Homo sapiens: one gene and its partners. The protein of the gene in region 1 purifies or fractionates together with the protein of each later gene. This does not show direct contact. Each region holds a gene or a part of one and is shown in the gene's direction. Other genes may lie near its edges.

Region 1 (3,500 bases):
TGGTAAGGGAAATTTGTTCTTATGGTAGAGAAGCACATTTAGCTGTCTGGAAATAGGTTACATTTTCAGAGGGTGAACTGAACTTAGAGTAATTATCAGTATAGCATCTAGTATCTTTTTATTTTTTTCCTTATAGTAGTAGTATTTTTTTAAGTAAGAAAGGTTTTCTTTAAAGGAGATTATTGGCCACTGAGAATCTGAAGAAAATTTGCTGATGAGTTTTGGGATTTATTCTCCTATTAACTAACTAATTGAAAAACTGGTATTTAGAAGTATGTGAATTTATAAAATAGCGAACATTTGGGATCATCTTACTACTTTTACTTTTAGTGAGTGGTACAAAGAAAGTGTTTTTTCCTAACTTCAGCAAAGCTTTTTTTCCATGGTAAATGGATTGGTCCAGGAAGTGAGCAAGTTGCTTTCCAGAGTGGTTTCAGATTCAAATCTGTTCAAGAAAATATAATTCCTTGAAAACATTTTTTTTTGCATATCATGCCTCTGCTCATTGTAAAAGTAGCAGGCAAATTGTTAGTTTGTGCTTCACTTCTGCTTGAATTACCCATTTTGCCATAAGCTTTTTCTCTACAATAACATTCTTAGCGGGCAAAAGTTTGTTCTCCAAAGATTCTGGTATACTGTGCACTGGAGGTTTGTGTGTGTGTGTGTGTGTGGCTCTCTTCTGCTTGAGTGTGTTTCTAGGAGAGATTTGAATCACTCTAAAAAGAGTGATGTTTGTTTTTATGATATCCTCAAATCTAATGGGGTGAAATCTATACATTTTGAAAGTAATATTGAAAATATTTAATAGTAATTACAGTAAACAGTAAGTGTCAGTCATTATTCTAAGTGCTTTACAAATATTAGATCATTTAATCCTCATAATAATCCTGTGAGGTAGTTACTACTCCCATTTTATAGATGAGGAAACTAAGGTACAGAGAGGCTAAATAAATTGTTCAAGGTTACAGACTAGTAAATGGCAGGGCTGAGATTTTAAATGTGTGTGTGTGTATGTGTGTGTGTGTGTGTGTGTGTGTGTGTATGTGTTAGTAATCTTAGAAATTCTCTGGGGGACTTGATGGGAAGAGGAGGGGTTTAGAAGGTTATGTATGGCAAAGCTGGAGAACAGGAGTTGTGTCACAGTGTGGTTTGAGTGTGGTTTTCAGATTACCCATATAGTGATAGAGGGAGTGGTATTCTAGAATGAGAGTTAGGGATGGTACAGAATTCAAATATGGGAGGAATTTATTAAAGTCAGCCAAAGGGATGTATCTTTGAGAGGTGTGATATTCTTGTAGACTCTTTAATATGTAAATTTAGTCCAATAAAACTAAAGGCAAATCTATTATCTTTTGTTGTTAGCCATCAAAGTCAGCGTTAAAACTGTTGTATCATTCTTAAATTAATGAGGAAATCTGTTAGTTGATGCCTGTGGCATGTGAGATGCAAGGTTTGATGGAGAGTGTTCAATATGGAATCACTGTACAGAATAAATAATGTAGTCTTTAATATAAAACTATACCTTTTAATAGAATTAAAACTGTACATAAGCAACTCTTTTCTTCTTACTGCTTTTTCTGAAGATACTAGTGGCAGAGCAGAATTTTCATTTCTTTGTGATAAGTAATTTCATAAGCTATTTAGGTTTATTGACACCTACCAATAACTTTCAAAGAGCTTAGTCTGAGGTGAACTTAATCTGATGTAACCAAGGTATGTAATTTATAATTTATTGAAATTCATATGTAAATTTCTGATACCTGAATGTTGAATGTTTAAAAATCATGTCTGATTACTGTATTTTTGATATATTCTGATCCTAAGCATAGCTTTCTCTATGGTATCATAGATTTTCCTGAAAAATAATTCTTTTATTCAATTGTTTCTTTTATTTTTTCTTTTTCCTGTGTGATTCTCAGTTATTAGCTAATTGAAGAGGAAGAAGAAGCAATTAGAGCTGTGTGTAAAAACCATACCAGCCCTGCTTTTCTGATTGACAGAAGGAGCCAATCACTTTGCATTCCCAGTTTACACTTTAATAAAAGAGAAGGCTTTAGTCTTTCTACTTGGACCATTTTGGTGCTCTTCACTGATTTCTTACTGGACTTTTCAAAAACCTGAGTCACTTTCTTTCTTCATCGTTAAAGTAATTGATCATGATATTAATTAGGGAACTATGGTATTGAAACACTCTTTTTGATCATTCATAGAGACACATTTCCATTACAACTGTGAAGCTATAATACAGCTATATTCACTTGCAAACCTGAGAGCACAATTCAAAGTTAAAAAGATGTATTTTTGTTTGGTATGTGATATTACATTATCTAGGCTTCTACTTTTGGACAAATAATTCAAGATTTTATTGTAGGTTCTATTATTGATTGACAGATTTCTTAAATAAGTCCTTTAGAGAATTTTAATAGGAACGTATTTTATTTAGGCATGGATAGATATAATTCAACAGGTGGAAAATGGGGCTGAAAACCATTGTTTCCAAAGAGTTACAATATTTTGAGGGAAATGGAAATGGAAGTAGCTAATTATAACATGACAGGAGATTAAATATAAATGTAAGCAAACAGCAGGAAAATATTTATTTTTCGCTTTTGACAAAAACTAAATCCAAAACCAGTTTTTGCATTATTACTTTTTAACCTTTAAATTTCTGCTAATATTGATGGTTTCATATACAGACTTTTCCCAATTTATAATAGTTCAACTTAAGATTCTTTGACTTTAGGATGGTGAGAAAGCAATATGTATTTAGTAGAAACCTTACTTTGAGTACCCATACAACTGTTCTGTTTTTTACTTTCAATATAGTATTCAATAAATTACATGATATATTCAACACTTCATTATAAAATAAACTTTGTGTTAGATACTTTTGCTCAAGTGTAGACTAATGTAAGTATTCTGAGCATGCTTAAGGTAGGGTAGGCTAAGCGATGATGTTTGGTAGGTTGAGAGTTATCAGATGCATTTTTGACTTAAGATATTTTCAACATATAATGGATTTATCAGGGTGTAATCCTATCATAGGTTAAGGAGCATCCGTATTCATGTGTGAAACAATTTTAATAGTTATAGAAAGTTGATAATGAAAAAATCTCAGTTATTCACAGATTCACAAAGCTGGGGAAATTGCAGAGAAGTGATTTACTTGATGCTTTTTAAATCCACTTATCTTTTCTTCAGTTTGCTTCTTAGCTTTCTTTAATTTTTTTTGTGCCTAATGATAGTAGATAGAATACGTGATACATGAAATTATATGGCTAAATCGTAATTTGTTAATTACTAGTTCATAATAATTAAGGAAGAGTGAAAGGAACTTCATCTTAATCTAGTGAAACATTGCCACTTTCTTCCCTTCTGACATGGTATAGTATATTCTATAGTTTTTTAGATATAGTTGTCACGAAATTTCTTCTGACATTCATTTATTTGTATGACAAATAATGAGAGTGTTCTCCGTTTGAAGCATAGTTCATTTGCGT
Region 2 (3,500 bases), on another chromosome or scaffold:
TAGCATGTACACAAGGAACTTTCTTTTTTTCATTTAACAGTGTAACTTGGAGATTTTTCCATTGCGGAACATAGGGGCCTCCTTTTTTCCTCTTACTTGTTTTTAATGGCTATACAATATTCTCCTTTATATATCTTCAGTAATTTATTTAGTGTACCCCATATTGGTGGATATTTGGGTTTTTTTCACATTCTTTTCTTTCTATAAACTGTGTTGTAATATGTAACCCTGTAAATATATCAGTTTCGCATGGGTGCAAAATTTGCACATTGCTGTACAAGTACATAATGTAAATTCCAGAAAATGTACTTGCTGGCATAAAGTATTACGAAGATGTAATTTTGATAGTGTGAGAGTGCTCTTTATATGATAGCATATGTGTGTTAGTCCATTTTTTGCTGCTCTAACAGGGTAATTTATAAAAATATTTGGCTCAGGGTTCTGGAAGCCGGGAAGCCTAAGAACATGGCACAGGCATCCCATGAGGTTTCCCCATGGTGGAAGGCATCACATGGCGAGCAAGCTAGACAGAGAGGGCCCTAGAGAGAGAGAAAAGTGGTGGCCAGACTCGTCTTTTTATCAGGAGCCCATTCCCATGGTAACCAACCCACATCCCACTCGGGTAATAACAGAATTAATCCATTCATGAGGATGAACCCCTCATGGCCTAATCACTGCTTAAATGCCCCACATCTTAATACTGTTAACAATGCCAGTTAATTCTAACAGCGACCTTTGGGGGACATACTGAAACCACAGCAGTGTGCTGTCACACTTTGAATTTCTGTCTTCTAGGGTAAAAAATGGTATATTTGTAATGTTCATTAGATTTCTCTTATGGATTAAGGTTGTGATGTTCTTTATGTACCCTCACTCTCCAGGGCTCTAGGATGCTTTCCTAGGGTTGAGTTAGAACCTTAGAAGAAAGTGAATCTGAGTATTTATATTGATAAAATGTTTCTTAGGCACACACACACATCCAAAGAACCCTTACTACATCTTGATTCAGTTGCACACACTAAGCTCTTACCCCAAATTTGTGATGATTTATTAAAACTGGATAAAGTGATTGGCATATGAATTCATTAATGATGACCGATAGCAGGCAGTTCTTTTTGTTGTAATATCAGTGAAAGCCTAAGGAAGAGAGTGGCTATTTGAAATAGATTCTGATGTACAGGTAGGATTTCCATAGAAGGAAAGAATGGCATGAGCAAAAGACGGGGGAACAAGATAGAAAGGAGAATTTAGAAGAGGAGTAGAAACAAAGCTGGAGCCAGGTTATAGAAAATCTTGTCTTAGAGAAACATTATACTTTAGGAAGTTAAGCTGTATGCCATGGACAGTGGATATCATTGGCAATTTGAGAACAAGAAAGAGTGAGCAGTGGTCAAGAAAGGTGAGTCTGGCAGTATCGTGTAGGATGGATTGAAGGACACACTGGAAACGGGCACCATTTTAGATGTACAAAAGATATGTGGCCCTAAACTGATGAAGCTGGCAAAAGAAATGAAAATAAACTCTAGGCAGAGAATATAAAACAAGAAGTAACAAACTTGACTGAAGAAGGAAGAGATGAAATAAAGCTATAGAATTTGAGTGGCGGAAGGGAAAGTGTAAAGGGCAGATTTATTTTAAGGATAAAGTGGAAGAATTTAAATCTTGAAACATGTTGAATTTTGAAGCAAGTCCTAGGTCTCCCAGGTGGATGTGTCCAGTAGCCAGGTCTAAATGTAGCATAGGAAAAAGGTTTTAGAGAGCTGTATCTTAAAGATACATTTTAGCTCTCTGTTGGATTTTCCACCATGCTCACCTGCCAGATTCTCTCACTGCTTGTAATTCTGATCTTTGTTATCTCCAACCTTACTTGACTGCGGTTGATTTGTTCCAACACCTATCTTTTAGTCTACGTCACATTGCTGTCTAAACTTCTTTGCGTTCTTCCCTTTTTGCTACTTAAGATAAAATCTCAACATTTTTTATTGCATACCGGAGTCCTGTTACCTTTTCCATCTTCCTCTGCCATAAATGCCTGTAAACCAGTCACTTTACACTTTATTTAAAAAATACATATATATCAATGGAGACAAAAGAAGTAATTAGTGTGTGGCATTAGAGAATGTATCAGAAGAGAGAACGTTTTTAAAAGACTTAAGTGAACAGAAGAATTTATTTGAATAAAGAGAAAAATCACTGAATTTGATAGATTTTGACCATACAGAAGAAAATTTTAGTAGAATAATGGAGATGGAATCAATGACCTAAAATTTGACTTTGAATGGGAATAGGTAGGCAGCTCAAAGGATGCAGCGAATGTTTTAAGATCACTGTCAGATAGAGGGGAAAAAGGATAAATCATGATAACTGATATTAAAAAGGGTTAGAGCAGGCTTTCTCAATTTTGGCACTGATTGGATCATTCTTTGTTGTGGGAGCTGTCTTCCATATTATAGGATGTGTAGCATTGTCCCAGTCTTCCACCCACTAGATGCCAGGAGCCATTCCCAGTTGTGGCAGCCAGAATCATCTCCATGCATTGCCTAATGTCCCCTTGGGGAAGGGATTAAAATTGTGCTTGGTTGAGAATTGAGAATTGAAGATGTGTGTATGGTATCTCTAGGAAGCATGAGAAGGGCCTGACTTTGGTAAAGAGGGGGAAATCTGTGGAAGAATGCGGGAAAGAAGTTGCTTGACATGGAAGGAGTTGAAGGCACTGCAGGAGTGGAATCAGTTATACCAGTGTCCTTTTGAAATTAGATAGCACTTTATAGTTAGTCAGGTCAGAAGGTTTTGTAATATTTTTCTTCAGGTAATTGGGTCTGTCGTGTTTCTTGGTTGTCTACTGATACTATAATATAGTCCCTTTTTTTTCAGCATGATTTGACCACACAAAAAGCCCCAGTGGAGATTTTTTCCTATGTTTCTGTTTTTTTGTGTGTGTGTATGCCCTTCAACTATAAATATGGCAATTGGTAGATAACCTGCTCTTTGAGTAAATCTGTACCTCGGTTTATAATTAACAATCTATTAATCTGGTACAATGAAGTTAGAGATAAAAATAGGTATAGAACAAAATCTGTCATCTCAACATGTGATTTGTGGAAATTAATTTCCACTTCCAAAATGTGTAAATGCTTTTCCATAATTTGTTCATTTATTTTCATTGAAAATGAAAGACAGAAAATGTAGATGTAATTAATAAAGGGTTCTCTTTTAATTTTCTTAATTCTTTTTTCTCTACCAAACTATGTGACCTTCGTCAGATTTTATGACACATGCCATTGTGTGTAAGTTGTCACCTCATAACTAAAATATTTTGAAGGCATGTAATTCATAGGAAGTCCTTGTTTTTACCCCCTTTTTTGCATTTGCATTAAAAATTTTTTTGTAGATACATAATAGATAACACCTGTTGCAGGGGTACATATGATAATTTTTAATACATTTCTATAATTAATTTTTACTTTTAACTTTCAGGCCGAAGAACAGTTGAGAATTGT
Region 3 (3,500 bases), on another chromosome or scaffold:
TTTTGTTAATTATGACCCAATATAGTTGTGGCAAAAAAGAACATACTATGTTAATGCTAGATTAGAATTTTTGAATCTTTTTACATAGATTATCCCTCCTCCCTCTTCCCCTGCCTGAGAAAGCAGATTTTTTTTTTCATTTTACATATGAGGAAATATTCAGAAAGATTTATTAAGTTGACCAATTAGGTTAATACGTTCTAGAGTTTGTCCTGGAACCTAGGTCTCTGATCTCTGAGCATTTGTTTCTCTAATCTATGCTGACATCTTTAAAAAGTGATGGTGGCCAGGCACGGTGGCTCATGCCTGTAATCCCAGCGCTTTGAGAGGCCGAAGCGGGTGGATCATGAGGTCAGGAGCTCAAGACCAGCCTAGCCAACATGGCGAGACTCCCCGTCTCTACTGAAAACACAGAAATTAGCCTGGCTTGGTGGCGCCTGCCTGTAATATCAGCTACTCGGTAGGCTGAGGCAGGAGAATCACTTGAACCTGGGAGGCGGAGGTTGCAGTAAGCTGAGATCACGCCACTGCACTCCAGCCTGGGAGACAGAGCAAGACTCCATCTTGGGGGGTGGCGGAAGTGATGGTGATTACTGGGATGCATTAATATCAGAGGTGTTTTGTTGTTGTTGTTGTTGTTGTTTTTTGGTTTTGTTTTATTGGAGACAGCATCTTACTCTGTTGCCCGGGCTGGAGTGCAGTGGTGTGACCTTGGCTCACTGCATCCTTGACCTCCTGGGCTTAAGCCGTCCTCCCTCTTGAGCCTCCTGAGTATCTGGGACCACAGACGCATGCTACCACACCCGGCTAGTTTTTGTATTTTTTTGTAGAGACGAGGTTTTGCCATGTTGCCCAGGCTGGTCTTGAATTCCTGGGCTCAAGCAATCTGCTTGCCTTGGCTTCCCTTTGTAACACCTCCGAAAGGTATAGACGTGAGCCACTGTGACCAGCCCTTCAGCTGTCTTCTAAAGAATGAAATAGTTTTCAGATATTTTGCTTAACTAGAAGAAGGCAAAAAAGTAGGTTCTGTGATTGGATAAGTTTTGGAAATGTTGGAGTATAAAAAGTTAAAACCACTTTCTTTCCTGTAAGACTTCTTTGTTCTTAATAAGCTAATGTATATTGTGTTGCTAGATAAATGGGATAAATTAAGTGACGTTTTCTGAACTTAACTACAAAACTGTTTCTTAGGACTATTGTTACAAGAACACACTTCAAGAATATTTGCTTTTGTTAACTCCAGTGCTATTTTAATTACTTCAAATTACTTCATTTTCTAAGTTTATCTTTATGATTTTTCATGACTGTAGTTTGTAGAAATACACTTACAAAATAACATGGTACATGCCTGCACGTTGTATTTATATAAATGCCAAACAAAAGTTTTATGATGTTAAGGGACTTCTGGTATTTTCCATTCCATTTCATTTAAAAAATGCTGGTTGTGGTTGAACACTATGGCTCATACCTGTAATCATCACAGCATTTTGGGAGGCTGAAATGGAAGAATCACTTGAGTCCAGGAGTTTGTGACCAGCCTGGGCAATGTAGTGAGACCCCATCTCTTAAAACAGTAAATAAATTAGCGAGTGCCTGTAGTCCTAGATACTGGGAGGGTGTGTGGGGTGGTGGGGGGAGGGGCTGAGATGGGAGGGTCACTTGAGCCCAGGATCTAGGCTGCAATGACCTATGATGACACTGCTGCACTGGGCAACAGAGCCTGGGCAACAGAGTGAGACCCTGTCTCAAAAAAAAAAAAAAAAAAAGCTGATTATGACTGTTAAAGTGATTTCATGATTCACTAATGTGGCAACCCTCAATTTGAAAAACACTAGTCTATGTGGTCACTTAGAAATTTCTTTTTCTGAGGCAGGGTCTTGCTCTTGCTCAGGCTGGAGTGCAAGGATGTGATCATAGCTCACTCCAACCTTGAACTCCTGGGCTCAAGAGATTATCACTTTTTTTTTTTAAACTGCTTTCTTAAGTTCATTTCTTGGTTTTGAGGGATAGTGGCAAATCAAATTTGCAGAATTCTCTAGTTCTTATTTGTTTCAAATTTATGGCACTATGTGGTCACGTTGTTGCTATTTCTTTAGTAGTGCCCCGAGATTCAAAATAATTAAGCAGGAAGCTTGGAAGTCTTCTAATTAGACTAGGCAAGAACTAAATGCAGTATTTTTTAGTGTTTAAGTAAGCATTAGTAATAGACTATAAAGTTTCATCTTTTTTATTAGATTGCTGAGCTGAAAAGAGGTGCTGAAATTATTGTTTGCACACCTGGTCGAATGATTGACATGTTAGCCGCTAACAGTGGTAAGTCAGGGGTATTTTTTTGGTGTCTTTTATTTTTGAATTCTTTACTTTTTTTTGTTAAAACAGATGCAAGAAACCAACAAAGGGTTTCTATATTTCTTCTTAAAGCTGCAGTATCTTAAAATTTGTAGCCTGTAGTCCCAGCTACTTGGGAGGCTGAGGCAGGAGAATAGCTTGAACCCGGGAGGCGGAGCTTGCAGTGAGCCAAGATCGCACCACTGTACTCCAGCCTGGGTGACAGAGTAAGACTCCGTCTCAAAAAAAAAAAATAATAATTGTAACAAGTTGATTATTACAAGCATTAATGATATTTTTGCAATTTAAAATTTTTTTTCAGAAGTAACTCCATCTGATCATAACTTGGATTCTTAATCCAGTTTTGGCCTGGCTTTGCTTAGTAAAAGAGTGGGGTAGTAGCTTTTTCTTTATTACAAAATTTAGACTTTTTCTCCACATGAGCTAGTATTTTCTTAGATACTACATAAATTAAGATATTGCAGCTTCAAGAAATTTTATCTTTTGTAAATATTGCATGTTTGTAGCTCAAATGTTATGCTTTGTTAAATTATTCCCTATCAAAACTCTTACTAAACTGTTGACATTATTTAACTTCTGTGGAGAAAGGCCCTTCAAGATTTATAGAACTGGGCTTCCGAGACTTAAACCATCAAAGGTAGGTAATTTAATGCTGTTCCCGACCTTGCAAAACTAATTGGGGCTACAAATGCTAGTGTGGAATACTTAAATATTAGATAGCACTTATTTTGGCACTTTTTATTTTTTGAAGAAAATGCTCTCAGAGGTTTCCATTGCAATATTTAGTGTGTACATAATAGAGTATTAAAAACTGAGTTAGTGCATGTTTCTAGTAGTATTCTGCTTGAATTTCTAATTCTAATTGTACATGAAGTTGGCAAAGTGACATCGAAATTGAGAAGTCATTGTGCTTGTCTAGCATATGGAAAGTTTTGGTTTGAATGCTGATTAAATAATCCCTTTTTTTTTTTCTCAATGCTGCATTGATTAAGTCTCCTCCTGAAATTCATCTTGATTAATTTTACCTTTTTCTCTTATCTGTCATTGTGGTCTATTTTTAAATAACTATTTTATACGTGTTTTTGCCAGGTGATTGATTCAACAGTTGATAGCAATGCTTCTGTTAATATTTTAGAAGGAATTTCCTATGT
Region 4 (3,500 bases), about 31 Mb from region 1:
CCAGTGTTTAAAAATTATCAGAGGTGTGTGATCATAATATACTTTTAAATGTCTCAGAAATGCATACTCATAGTGTATATATTTCCATAGGTCTTCATATTTTAAAAATATAACTGTCTGGAATAATTTCTGAGATTTTAAATTAGAGTTATGTTTTTGGATATTGTTTTAAAACGTGTTAACAATTTTAACAAAAATCTTAAAGAAATGTTTATCAACAGTTTATCAACATCTGTGCTTCTTTAAAATAGATGGTTATCATCAGGAACATTAGTATTATTATTCGTATTTGATCCTTTGCCTTTATTTCCTAATTTTCAAAATAATGAACTGGTGCCCTGGCAACCTCCAGAGGTGATGAAGTTGCTTTGTTTTTTCTTTTTTCAATTCATGTAAATTTAATGGTTACAAGTGCTTTTTTGTTACATGGATATATTGTGTAGTGGTAAAGTCAGACTTTTAGTATAAACTAAAATGTACATTGTACCCATTAAGTAATTTCTCATCCCGCACCTCCCTCTCACCTTTCCTAGTCTCCATTATCTATTATTCCATACCCTATATACATGTGTACACATTATTTAGCTCTGACTTGTAAGTGAGAACATGTACCATTTGACTTTCTGTTTCTGATTTATTTCACTTAAGGTAATAGCCTCCAGTTCCATCCATGTTGTAAAAGATATTATTTCTTTTCTGTGTGGCTGAATAGTATTCCTGTGTGTGTGTGTGTGTGTGTGTGTGTGTGTGTGTGTATACACATTTTCTTTATACAATCATATGTTGATGTACACTTAGGTTGATTCCATATCTTTGCTATTGTGACTAGTGGTGTGATAAACATGAGTGCAGGTATCTTTTTTATATAATGATTTATTTTCCTTTTGGCAGATACTCACAGTGGGGTTGCTGGATTGAGTGGTAGTTCTATATTTAGTTCCTTAAGAAATCCCCAAACTATTTTCCATAAAGATTGTACTAATTTACATTCTTACCAAGAGTATACAAGCATTCCCTTTTCTCTGTGTTCTCACCAACATCTGTTACTTTTTTAACTTTTTAATAATAGCTAAATATTCTGACTAGTATAATATATCTCACTGTGGTTTTAATTTGTGTTTCTCTGATGATTAGTGATGGTGAACATTTTTTTTCATGTTTCTTGGCCACTTGTATGTCTTCTTTTCAAAAAGTCTATTCATGTTTTTTGCCCTCTTTTTAGTGGGGTTATTTGTTTTTTGTTGTTGTTGTTGAGGGGAACATTATTATTATAACCTTAAGAAACAGATATGTAATATGTAGGATTACTTGTCCCTACATTAAATTGTGCCTGAGTGCTATACTTTAAAAATTTATGGTGTAGCATTTTCAGTCTTTGTTTCTCCTGAATTTGTCATTATCTCTTGTAGCTGCAATTAGCTAGCAGCTCTGTGTGTTTATTATCAGCGGAAGAAAACAGGGCTAGCTGAAAATTTGTGTTTGAGCAATACTTTTATAACATAAAATACAAGCTTTTCTTAAAATTGATGAAGGAGGTTCATTAAGCCATGTTCCAGGTATATCATCCTTAGCTAATTTCTTTAGGAAAAAAACACTACTGCTAAGTTAGGGATGTGTTTATTATGTCTGTGCTCTCACTTTACCACTAGCACCCATCAGTCTGTGTAAAGTAGAAAAGTTGTTCCTTAAAAGAAGAAAGGATATTCCGGAGTTTATAGACAGGATTGTAGAATGTCTAATAGAGGCAATTCTAAATTAGAACAGGCATTTCATATGTAACAAGTAAGGTTGTAACTTGTTTCTTTTGACTGGACCCTTGGCCTCATTCTTACTCTCTACTGAATGACCTTTTCTAAACAGAAATATAATCATTCTCCATTAAAGTCTTTTTGTTGGTTTCTCATCACAAGAATTCCATCCAGACTCCTCATCGCTGCCTAGTGATCTCACCTGGTTCTTCCCTGACCACGTCTTCCTCCGCTTTCCCTGCCATTCACTATGCTTCAGCTCCATTCACCTCTTTCTGTTTTTCAGAGATAACAGGTTCCGTCCCTTCTCAGGCTTTTACCCACTTGCTGTTTCTTTCTTTCATAGACCTTTCGGTGGGCCCTTTGCACTCTTAGCTCTGATGTCAGCCCCTCAGGACAGCCTTCCCTGACCAACTTCTTTAAAGCAGCTCCTCAGCCCCACTCTAGTCATTCTCTGTCACTGCACACTATTTTATGTCCTTCATGAGCCATGTTTGCTTATATATTTATTTTTGGTCATCCGTCTCTAGAATTTAATATTCTTAAGGGCATTTTATTCACTGATTTGCTCCCAATTTCTACTGTGTTTGACACATAGTAGATGCTTAAAGAATAGTGATTTACTGGCAGTTTGGCTTCTAAGCCTAAAAAGGATAGTTGTCATGAATAAATCATCTTTGGCATTTTCTGTTTAATAGAAAACAATTGAAGATAGAAATATAAAGAATAAAAAGTCAACAAATAATAGAGCATCCAGTGCATCTGCCAGGTAATAAAGTTACCAATATTTGTCATTTATGGGCTTGCATTCTAGCAAAGCTAGTTTTAATTTAACTTTCATAAAGTAAATTTCATTTGGTGTTACTGTATTTTCTTTTTATTTCCATTTCATAAAATGAAAGTAGTTAACTTCATGATAAAACCCCTTGGTTGATGATATTATTTGAAATAAAGTAATTTATAAAAAGTAAGTCTATTACTGATTGTTTTAGTGCCTGGAATGTTTATGCAATACCTTTGCTCTCCAGGATCGTCCTAGGAATATTTTTCTTCTTTCTTAATGTCAGTGATTAGGGATTCTTTGTGCTCCAGACTGCTTCTGGAATAGAGCTTCTTTCTCCTACTTTTCCTGAGACAAGCAATATAAAATGGTAATAAAGCTGAAGTCTAGCAATGATACTTATTCATTATCAAGTATCATTGTCTAACATGAGAAATTGTACTGAAAGCCTTCAGAATCTATGAACTAAGTAGGTTTATTAAAATGATTATCTGTATAGCTTCATTCACACCAATGATAATGAATGCCTAACTCATAAGTGCTAATCAAAAACCTTCTGAATCTTTAAAATTATCGTTAGTCAAATTATCATTAATCAAATAAAACAGAGCTAGCAAGCTTTTTCTGTAAATGGCCAGTTAGTGCATATTTTAGGCTTTGTAGGCGATACAGTCTGTATTGGAACTACTCATTTCTGCTATTTTAACAGGAAAGCAGCCACAGGCAAAACTTAACATGAATGATTACAGCTATGGTGCAATAAACTTTGTATATCAAAACCAATGGCTGGCCAAATTTTCCCACCAATCCCTGATATAGATAGTACTATTCTTTCTAATTTTATATTTGGAATGCTTCATGTAACAAAATGATGAAAGAAAATATTAAAAGAGTGATTATAACCTACTGTATTGTTTTTTCCATGTAACTTGAGAAGTGGTCCATATTTCTTAAGTTTCTAATTACAAATA
Region 5 (3,500 bases), on another chromosome or scaffold:
GGTATATCAGGGATTAATAGTTTTTATCTTTTTTTTAAAGGTGCCTCTCTCAAGAGCATAATGGCTTCTCCTTACACATTGATATGTAAAATATACTTACTTTTAGAACACATGAATCATTGCATCATCCTTTTATTCTTTACCACATTGATGCTGTGTTGAAAAGCCTCTGAACCTTGCTGGAATACTGTCCAACCTCAGAGGTTGTATATGTCATTTTCATTTCACAAAATTAGCCCTTTTATCGCAGCCATTAAAACATACATTTGGCCAGGCGCGGTGGCTCACACCTATAATCTCAGCACTTTGGGAGGCCGAGGTGGGTGGATCACAAGGTCAGGAGTTCGAGACTAGCCTGGCCAACATGGTGAAACCCCCTCTCTACTAAAAATACAAAAATTAGCCAGGTGTGGTAGCATGTTCTGTAATCCCAGCTACTCTGGAGGCTCAGGCAGGAGAATCACTTGAACTTGGGAGGAGGAGGTTGCAGTGAGCCGAAATGGTGCTGCTGCACTCCAGCCTGGGTGACAGAACAAGACCCTGACTCAAAGAAAAAAAAAAAAAAAGGTAATCCAGAAAAGTACAAAAAAGTGAAGATTACCCGTAATCCCACCACCCTGAATTTATCATATGTAGCATTTTACATATGATATATATACATGTTTATAATTAAGTACATGTTTACTCTGTAAAGCTTTCTAAAAGTTAATCTAATATAGTAATCAACCACATAAAGCACATTTCATATTACAACACATGTTGATCTAAGTTGTGTAGGTGTATGTGCAAGTACTTACAGGAGGTTTATGTTTAAAGGTTTTTTCCCCCCTTTTCAACAACTAAAATAGATTCACACCATACATGGTGTTTTGTTGAAGGTAGATAGAACTTAAATATTTCTGTAGTCTGGAGAATCAAAAAACAATAACCTTCCGTCTATATTCTTCTCAACAGCTTCTGTAAATAGATTCACTTGTCTTAGTGGCTCATGATCTGCACTCTGCGTTAGTCATTTGAATTTTAAAAAATACAGATAGCAGGCTTTCACTCCCCATAGAGTTGGTTTGGGTTGTTATGTTGGGGGCCCAGGCATCAGTATGTATTTTCTAAAAGCTCCCCAGGTGATTCTTACATACACCTGAAGTTAAGAACTAACTAATCTAAACTAAAGCTTGAAATTTAGCATCATTTTTATTCATCTCTCTGCTGGTCAGTTTCTAGATTATTTTATATACTTTTCAGTTTTCGGAAAACTTCTACATTGCTTTATTTGATTCTCACAACGGTGCTGAGAGTTAAGCAGGACTATTTTCTTTTTACTGGTAGAATAGAAAGGTAATTCATTAAGAACCCAGTTAAATTACCTTTGACAGTCTTGTGTTTGTAGGCACACCTGCCTGAAGGAGTGTGCCGGAATTGTTTATTCTGTTCATCTTTAGATAATTAATGTAAGATATTTGAAAAATATACCTTTGGCATATTCTAGGTTTATTATAATGAATGTGAATTATCTTTGTAGTAATTTTTCAAAGTGACCTATTGGGCCAGGTGGGATGGCTCACTCTTGTAAACCCAGCACTTTGGGAGGTGGAGGCGGGTGGATCACTTGAGGTCAGGAGTTCGAGACCAGCATGGCCAACATGGTGAAACCCCATCTCTACTAAAAATACAAAAACTAGCTGGGCATGGTGTTGGGCACGTGTAACCTTAGCTACTCAGGAGGCTGAGGCAGGAGAGTCACTTGAACCCAGGATGCAGAGGTTGCACTGAGCTGAGATTGTGCCACTGCACTCCAGCCTGGGCAATAGAGTAAGACCCTGCCACAAAAACAGAAACAAAAAACTCAGAGTGACCTATTGTATGACTGTTGTGTTTAAGACAATGTGCAAGGCCTTTCAGAAAAATGATTTTGTTAGTAAAATGTCAGTTTAATAGAAGAGAAGCTAAAACACTTGCAAACAATACAAGGCATGGCCTGTGATTAAGATACTCCATGCAATTGGGAAGAGGTTGTTGCTGGAAACATTTCAGTTTGGCATATCTTCTTAATCTTCCCCTCCCTTGCAACAGAAATTTTATAACTAAGCTTTTTTTTTTTTTTTTTTTAACATTTTATCGTAGCTCTTGTGAATGTTTAAGGGGAAAAGTTACTCAGCCATAAAGTATTTTGGCAAAATGATTTTAAAATTTCCTTAGGCTGGGAGCAGTGGCTCACGCCTGTAATCCCAGCACTTTGGGAGGCCAAGGCAGGAAGATTGCTTGGACCCAGGTGGTTGAGGCTGCAGTGAACCATGACTGCCCCTGCACTCCACCCTGGGCGATAGAGCAAGACCTTGTCTCAAAGAAAAGAAACTAATTATTAAGTGGGATTTGTTTTTGTTTGGGAGGTATTTCTGAACTTAAAAAGGAAAATTGCAAACCATTATAGGGACTAGTTTGCCTTTGGAGGAAAAGGAAAATTGCAAACCCTTATAAAGACCAATTTGCCTTTGGAGGAGAAAGCCAATTTATCATCCAAAATCCTCAGAATTCTCAAATACAAAAAGTTCTGAAAACTGAAAGTTTCTTCTTAAGTTTGGTGGCAAAAGTTATTTATAGTCTTGACTTATCCCATTTGATGTGAATCTGCTTACATTTCATTGCACAAAATGTTTCTGTGATTGTGAAATACTGTTCCAGAAGCCACTGGGAGGTTTAACTTAATAAATAGTATATGCAACGTTTTACTCTTCTAAAATCTGAAAATTGTGAATTCTGAAACATATCTCAGAGGGTTTCATTAAGAATTTTTGGGCTTATACAAATTTATGCTACATAAATGTTTATAGTCTTGTCTTTCTCTGGTATATACGTTTTTACTTTGCCATTTTACTTTAGGCCCTCAAATCATGCAAGTTATATTTTAGATTTTGTTTTTGTCATTTCAAAATAGCTATGTTACTACTATGATAGTTTAGGATGTGATAGGTTAATCTTGCTTTCATTTTTTATTTTGTTATTCAGATTATGTTTACTGCCCAATTTATTTTGTAGTTTTTTCCTCAAAGCGTAAAAGTTTGGCTTCAGGCCAGGCGTGGTGGCTCACGCCTCTAATCCCAGCACCTTGGGAGGCCGAGGCCGGTGGATCACTTGAGGCCAGGAGTTCGAGACCAGCCTGGCCAACATGATGAAACCCTGTCTCTATTAAAAATACAAAAATTAGCTGGGTGTGGTGGCATGAGGCTATAATCCCAGCTACTCAGGAGGCTGAGTCAGGAGAATTGCTTGAACTCGGAAGGCAGAGGTTGCAGTGAGCCAAGATAGCGCCTCTGCACTGCACTCCAGCCTGGGCAAGAAGAGCGAGACAGTGTCTCCAAAAAAAAAAAAAAAAAAAAAAAAAAGGTTTGGCTTCAATCTGCCTTACACTTTCAGTTAGTTCCTTTATCCTGGTCATGCCACTTTCACAGTTTTGCGGCAGTTGCTAGATTCCCTGTAGGACAAAAGAGGTGAAACTATTTAGT
Region 6 (3,500 bases), on another chromosome or scaffold:
GATCCGAAAAAGTTACATAAATTGTGTTTGATTAATGCGTATCTTGGGTCTCTTTTAGATCTAGAGTGTCTCTCATCTTTTTTAAGAAACATTATTTGTTGAAGAAAATGAGTAATTCTGTATAATTCCCCACATTCTAGACTTTACTGATTGTATCCCCATGATTTCTCTGCCTCTTGTGTTTCCTGTTAACTATAGTAACTATAAGTTAAATACGGAAGTTTGTGATTAAGGTGTTTTTTTATTTTTTTTTTTATTTTTATTTTTTTTTGGGAGACAAGATCTTTCTCTGTTGCCCAGGGTGGAGTGCAGTGGTGCCATCTCGGCTCATTGAACCTCTGATTGCTGGGCTCAAGCAATCCTCCCACCTCATCCTCCTGAGTAGCTGGGACTACAGGCGTGTACCACCAAGCCCAGCCAACATTTATATTTTTTGTAGAGATGGGATCTCACCATGTTGCCCATGCTTGATTTTTAATAAGAATACTTCATTGGTGGTATTTATAGATTTTGATTTATTTCCAAATTGTTCTTTCAAAAGTTTCATTTTATCTAGTCATTTTACAGGACAGCTTTTATCAGTTCCTGGTATAAAATCCTTTTAGCCTCAGCCTTATAATATGAATATCTATACATACATAATACTTCATACACACACGATATACATATATTCCCATGTATATATATGTGTGTGTGTCAGCCACTTACATGTCCTGTTACTCTTCTATGAATCTTAAATTTGATATTGCTGTTTTGAATCTACTTCATCCCCTATGCCTTCTATATTCTCTCTGCTTGAAATCTACCCTCACTATCTTGAATGATGAAGCCTGGTGACAACTTTTTAGATAATTTTATGTAAGATAATTATTTGCTAAGTCATCCAGTGACATACTCGGGTATTGTTTGTCTCCCTACCAGCAGCATCTAGTAGGTACTTCAAAATCAGAGCACTTTATTCTGTATTTTTAATTTTTTCTGTCTTTGCCTCTTACCCAGGAATGCAAACTCAGATGTCTATCCACAGAGGCCTAAAGTGGGCTGTAACATGGTTTGGCAAACTTTTTCTGTAAATAGCCAGATAGTAAATATTTTTAGCTTTTGAGTAGTTTTGTGGGCAACTACTCAACCCTGTACTCTGCTGTTGTTGCTTGAAAGCAGCCATAGACAAACCGTAAACAAGTGAGGCTGACTTTGTTCCAATTTATCCCATTTCTTTGCTTTTAAAAAAATACCTGTGTATTCGCTTAGCTGGAGTTGGTCTACAGGCTGTAGTTTGCTGACCCCAGGACTAGAGGTTTGTTGCCATGTGTGAATTTGTACTTAATCTACTCAGATTAAAAGAAAGAAAAGCTGGAAAATCACTGTATTTGATGAAATATCCCATTGTATAAGTGTTCCCAAATTAGCCTAGAATGTTATGAAATATTATGAGCCAGTAATGTCTATAGGCTTATTTCTGCCTGAAGGCTACTAGTTTTATCTTGAGAATCTCATCCTCATTTCCTGGCAAAATGAGCACAGAATAAATGCTTGTTGAATAAATAAATAAATGAACTTCATACATTATTAATTTGTTTTTGTTTTCTCAAACTACTAGGAAATTTTGTCTGTGGCTAAAAAAAATAAAAAGGAGAATGAGGTAAGAAATTTATAATGTAAGATTAAGTTTAGAAGTCATATTTACTCCTCAGTTACTAGTCCTTTTTCTTTAATCAGCAGTATACGTTCTTCTCACTATTATCCTGTTTCTTTGCTTTAAAAAAAAATACCTATGTATTCACTTCTTCCATATCCAACATTCTTCTTTTTTATGTATCAACTTTAGTTAGTTGTTTTATTGCATGATTCTTGATGTATAAATGTTAATTTATGGGTCTAGCAATGTTGCTTTTAACTTGTGAATCTGGCAGTGATACAAGTGCTCGTAACCATGTGGATATAAACCGTGAATCATCTTATGGAAGCTGTGAGGGATGCCTTAATCTTGCTTCAGACCTTAAAGATTTTTTAAGTTTCTTAAAAGTTCTGTTTGAGAAGGCTTGATTTCCGAGCCACCTCTTCACTTAGCCCATTTCATGTAGAGAGGTTCCTTGTTATCTGACTTTTTATTGTTCAAGTACTTAAAATTACAAGGTTGCCTAGGGAAGCAAAATAATCATGACATGAAAATATTCATGAATGGATATGAACTTCAGGTAGTTAATTTACATATTAAAGATTTTTAGGCCTTTGGGAAATTAATGTTATGTTTATAAAATGAGAGATAATCTATTTGGTCATATAATTTTGTCCAAAATTTATATTGTAAAAGTGTCTTGGTTTTTATTCTTTGTTAAGTTATTAAGGACTGGTTTATGGGTGCAGTTTAGTTGGATTTTTAAAGATTTAGTTAGATAAACATTTAGTTGGATTTTTAAGATAAAGTCTAGATGTAATCTTCTGTAATTTACTATGGGATTTTGGCTTCATTTTATAACTTACAGTCAGTAAGAAATAGTTGTTAAGTATGGTATTTTAATGAATTTCGACACTTGCATACACTTGTGTAACCACCATCCAAATCAAGGTATAGAACATTTCCATTGTAAAGGGATCTCTTCTATGTCTTTCCACCCCCAAACCCAGAGGAGGCCACTTTTTACACCTTTTATAGGATGGCTTATTATTTCCTTTCCACTCAACATGTCTGTGATACTCATTTATGTTGTTGAGCATATTAGTAACCGGTTTCTTCTTATTGACTAGTATTCTGTTGAATGAATGTTACAATTTTCTCATCCATCCCCTTATTGATGGGCATTTGGGTTGTTTGCAGTTTGTGACTTTTATGAGTAAGGTTGCTATGATAATTTGCACACAAGTCCATGTGTAGACATGTTTTCATACTTTCTGCCTGTGTACCTGGGAATGGTATTGTTGTGTTACGTGGCAAATGTGTGTTCATAAGAAAGTACAGATTTTCCCCCCCAAAGTAAACACATCATTTTATTCTCTCGCCAGCAATGTTTGAAAACTCCAGCTTACATTATTGTCAGCATTTGATAGTCTTTTTAATTTCAGCCATTTTATTAGATGAGAAATGGTAACTTGTGTGGTTTTTAACTTGCATTTTCCTAATTACTACTGAAGTAGAGTATATTTTTATGTTCTTTGATAACTATGTTTTCTTTCTTTTTTTTTCTTTTTTGAGATGGAGTGTCACTCTGTCGCCCAGGCTGGAGTGCAATGGCACGATCTCGGCTCACTGTAAACTCTGCCTCCCAGGTTCAAGCGATTCTCCTGCCTCAGCCTCCCAAGTAGCTGGGACAACAGGCTCATGCCACCATGTTCAGCTAATTTTTGTATTTTTAGTAGAGACAGTGTGTCACCATTTTGGCCAGGATGGTTTTGATCACTTGACCTCATGATCTGCCTGCCTTGGCCTCCCAAAATGCTGGGATTACAGGCGTGAGCCACCATGCCCGGCCTGTATGTTTTCTTTTGTAAAGTATCTGTTA
Region 7 (3,290 bases), on another chromosome or scaffold:
GAGAAACTAAAATGATATTAAATATTTTTAACTGTCTTTCATATACTAAGTAGATTTCATTTTAAACACTTAAACCTTTCTGTTTGTTTTTAAGTTGGGGAGAAATGGAAAATTGTGGGACTATGATATCGTGGTCTTGTTCCTTTGTTTATTTCGTTCAATTTTAATTAGGTCAGAAGAGTGAATGGGGGAGGGAACCCAGGAAGTTTTGGCTGTTTTCATTAAGGTTGGTTTTCTGTTTTTTGTTTTTTGAGATAGAGTCTCACTCTGTCACTCAGGCTGGAGCCCAGTGGTGTGATCTCGGCTCACTGTAACCTCTGCCTCCTGGGTTCAAGTGATCCTCCCACCTCAGCCTCCCAAGTAGCTGGGATTACAGGCACTCACCACCACAACTGGCTAATTTTTGTATTTTCAATAGAGATGGGGTTTCGCCATCTTGGCCAGGCTGGTCTCGAACTCCTGACCTCAAGTGATCTGCCCGCCTCAGCCTCCTGAAATGCTGGGATTACAGGTGTGAGCAACCGTGCCTGGCCGTTTTTGTTAAGGTTATTTGATCTGCATTATTATTACATGCCTATGATAAATTTAAATTACCTGAGTGATAAGGACATTCTGATTATACTATTGTAAAATGCCCGCTTGCCTTATATTTTTAAGTGGTTGTTTTTCAAAAGTGTTTAAATAAGGCAGTCATATTTCAAAGTATAGAGCAAAAGTTTTTTTATTATTATTTTTGAGACAGGGTCTCCCTCTGTCACCCAGGCTAGAGTTCAGTGGTGCAATCTCGGCTCACTGCAACCTCCACCTCCTGGGCTCAAGCAATCCTCCACCTCAGCCTCCCGAGCAGCTGGGACTACCAGTGTGCACCACCATGCCCAGCTAATTTTTGTATAGTTAGTAGAGACAAGGTTTCACCTTATTGCCCAGGCTGGTCTCAAACTCCAGACCTCAAACAATCCGCCCGCCTCGGCCTCCCAAAGTGCTAGGATTATAGGCGTGAGCCACCACACCCGGCCCAAAGTTTTATAATTAAACAGTATTAACAGTCTTAAATACTATTAAATATATGTTCCAGGAAATGTCTACTTTTAACCCGCAACTACTGAAAATAAGAGTCAGCATGTAGCAGCATTAATGACCCCTGAATTTGAAATGATTTCTGTTTATTTATACCTAATTGTAGTTGCTGCCTAGCCTAATAAATCTGTAGTTTTCAAAAGTTAAAAGAAACTAGTTCCCAAAGTTTTGAGTCTCAATCCATCTACTTCCCTGAATAATAAAACCTGAATTTTGTAATACCCACTTAAAAATTTTATTCTCAGCTGGGCGTGGTGGCTCACACCTATAATCCCAGCACTTTGGGAGGCCGAGGTGGGCGGACCATGAGGTCAGGAGATCAAGACCATCCTGGCTAACATGGTGAAACCCCATCTCTACTAAAAATACAAAAAATGTAGCCGGGCATGGTGGCACGTGCCTGTAGTCCCAGCTACTCGGGAGGCTGAGGCAGGAGAATTGCTTGAACCTGGGAGGTGGAGGTTGCAGTGAGCCGAGATCAAGCCACTGCACTCCGGCCTGGGAGACAGAATGAGACTCCGTCTCTAAATAAACAAACAAATAAAAATGTATTCTCTAAGGACATTTTTTTTTTGGTTACTGGTTCCTAGAGATGAAATGATTATCTTATTTTCAGTAGGCAAGGTAGTTTAAATGCAGAAATTCTGCGATATATGAATATTGTGACATCAAGAACAGCTTCATTGGCATATTCTTTGGGAAAGAGGCAAGAAGAATAAAAGGGCTAAAAGTATTTTATTTTCAGCTTATGAGTGTTGTTACTGCTTCAAATTGTGTTTAGTCACCTGAGCCATAAATCAGTTGTAGTAGGGCTATTGTATTTTAAATATATTTTTTGTTCTCCAAGGAGACTTATCTAGTTTGCCACCTCCTTGCCTATTGCTCTGATGTGGTTTTCCCTCCTTTTTTATTTATTGCACAAATATCTAACAGTTAAAAAAGAAAAATTTCAGTACCATATCAATTGTCTTTCATATTTTGTGTTCCTCCTTTCCAGTGCTTTTCTATGTAAGTAAATATTCTGATGTACTTGTAAGTAATCACTCAGAGCATAATGTAATTTTGTCTTTGGTGTCTTAAAATTTTGCAGCCAGGCAAGAGAGGTTCACAGGGAAGGTAGGAACAAGTGATTATTCAGTGTGAGGATGGGAAGAAGATCAAAGATAAGTAAGGGCAATGATTGTATCCTTCCCGTGTCATTGCCCCTAGTCCCCAAGCCACCCTCCTGCAATCATGAGTATAGTGGTGTATTGTGGAAGGCAGCATGCCCAGTTTTCCAGTTTCAAAATATATTATTTAGCAGTGAGGCTTAACTCCCAGTAAATGAAGGGGTCTGTGAGTAGGGGAACCCTTCAGACTGGTTATATTATGAGCTGTAGAACTGTTGCCATTTTGTTGTTCCCAGTTGTGCCCATAAAGAGATGTGTCTGAGCTGGAGACTTAGGCTCAGATGGGGAACAAACAGCCAAGTACCAACCTTAGTTTGGTCCAATAGGTGAATTTTAGCAACTCTCTAAACTCAGCTCTATACCTGTAAGACTCAGAAGTGATACATATAGTGATAGAAAAAAATACTTTAGAAAATAGAAAACAACTTACTGGTTACTCTGCTAATGTGATGGAGGTTGCAGAATGGAAAATGAATGAATGCAAAAAAATACAGCTGGATTGTGTGCCACAAGTTTATTACTCAATAAATATTCTGTGGTTTGACGTGCTGTATTGTATTTTTAATGTATCCTGATGAGAAAAACAATCCTAAGACATCCTGTAAGTATCAGACACGATTGAATAAGAAGGGGAATGACTCCATGAAACTATATTTGGCATCAGTAAGATTCTTCTGCCAGTTTTCTCGAAAGCGAACCATTCCTGGTCTACAAAGGAAGAAAAACAAACACTTTTAAAGTATTTTTAAATCAAAAGCTTTTAAAATCAAACAAAGGGGATTCCCTATTTACTCTTTTATATTCCTAGTAAGCAAGAAGCCTCTTTTATTGGCGGGGGAGGGGAGGTAGCTAAGGTTCTCTATGTCTATCCTTTACTGTTTCTTAAGCCCAGTCAATGAAAGGATTTATGAGCTTATATGTAAAGATACTTTAAGAGAGCTGCTATAAAAGGGATTATTATACATGAGTTAATTTTATGTGATATTGAAGTTTTCCTTAGAAACGATAGACATGACCCACTTTGCCTCCACCCCACTCCAGCAA

The links.
Region 2: the proteins of ANKRD50 (region 1) and ARGLU1 purify together in Homo sapiens (affinity purification with mass spectrometry; one large-scale study listed by BioGRID and IntAct). This does not show direct contact.
Region 3: the proteins of ANKRD50 (region 1) and DDX46 purify together in Homo sapiens (affinity purification with mass spectrometry; one large-scale study listed by BioGRID and IntAct). This does not show direct contact.
Region 4: the proteins of ANKRD50 (region 1) and MAP9 purify together in Homo sapiens (affinity purification with mass spectrometry; one large-scale study listed by BioGRID and IntAct). This does not show direct contact.
Region 5: the proteins of ANKRD50 (region 1) and SLTM purify together in Homo sapiens (affinity purification with mass spectrometry; one large-scale study listed by BioGRID and IntAct). This does not show direct contact.
Region 6: the proteins of ANKRD50 (region 1) and HELLS purify together in Homo sapiens (affinity purification with mass spectrometry; one large-scale study listed by BioGRID and IntAct). This does not show direct contact.
Region 7: the proteins of ANKRD50 (region 1) and NKAP purify together in Homo sapiens (affinity purification with mass spectrometry; one large-scale study listed by BioGRID and IntAct). This does not show direct contact.

Annotation. Positions count from the first base shown.
Region 1 is NC_000004.12:124,706,233-124,709,732, reverse strand, and holds part of ANKRD50 (ankyrin repeat domain-containing protein 50), read left to right. Parts: intron 1-3,500.
Region 2 is NC_000013.11:106,544,138-106,547,637, reverse strand, and holds part of ARGLU1 (arginine and glutamate-rich protein 1), read left to right. Parts: intron 1-3,477; coding exon 3,478-3,500. UniProt on the Homo sapiens protein: Dual function regulator of gene expression; regulator of transcription and modulator of alternative splicing. General coactivator of nuclear receptor-induced gene expression, including genes activated by the glucocorticoid receptor NR3C1.
Region 3 is NC_000005.10:134,786,279-134,789,778, forward strand, and holds part of DDX46 (probable ATP-dependent RNA helicase DDX46), read left to right. Parts: intron 1-2,234; coding exon 2,235-2,313; intron 2,314-2,937; coding exon of another isoform or gene 2,938-2,990; exon of another isoform or gene 2,991-3,336; intron 3,337-3,500. UniProt on the Homo sapiens protein: Component of the 17S U2 SnRNP complex of the spliceosome, a large ribonucleoprotein complex that removes introns from transcribed pre-mRNAs.
Region 4 is NC_000004.12:155,356,466-155,359,965, reverse strand, and holds part of MAP9 (microtubule-associated protein 9), read left to right. Parts: intron 1-2,446; coding exon 2,447-2,517; intron 2,518-2,763; exon of another isoform or gene 2,764-2,877; intron 2,878-3,500. UniProt on the Homo sapiens protein: Involved in organization of the bipolar mitotic spindle. Required for bipolar spindle assembly, mitosis progression and cytokinesis. May act by stabilizing interphase microtubules.
Region 5 is NC_000015.10:58,923,680-58,927,179, reverse strand, and holds part of SLTM (SAFB-like transcription modulator), read left to right. Parts: intron 1-3,500. UniProt on the Homo sapiens protein: When overexpressed, acts as a general inhibitor of transcription that eventually leads to apoptosis.
Region 6 is NC_000010.11:94,569,788-94,573,287, forward strand, and holds part of HELLS (lymphoid-specific helicase), read left to right. Parts: exon of another isoform or gene 1-1,600; coding exon 1,601-1,642; exon of another isoform or gene 1,643-3,500. UniProt on the Homo sapiens protein: Plays an essential role in normal development and survival. Involved in regulation of the expansion or survival of lymphoid cells. Required for de novo or maintenance DNA methylation. May control silencing of the imprinted CDKN1C gene through DNA methylation.
Region 7 is NC_000023.11:119,920,172-119,923,461, reverse strand, and holds the end of NKAP (NF-kappa-B-activating protein), read left to right. Parts: 3' UTR 1-2,790; downstream 2,791-3,290. Other genes in the region: AKAP14 (A-kinase anchor protein 14), read right to left, coding at 2,855-2,954. UniProt on the Homo sapiens protein: Acts as a transcriptional repressor. Plays a role as a transcriptional corepressor of the Notch-mediated signaling required for T-cell development. Also involved in the TNF and IL-1 induced NF-kappa-B activation.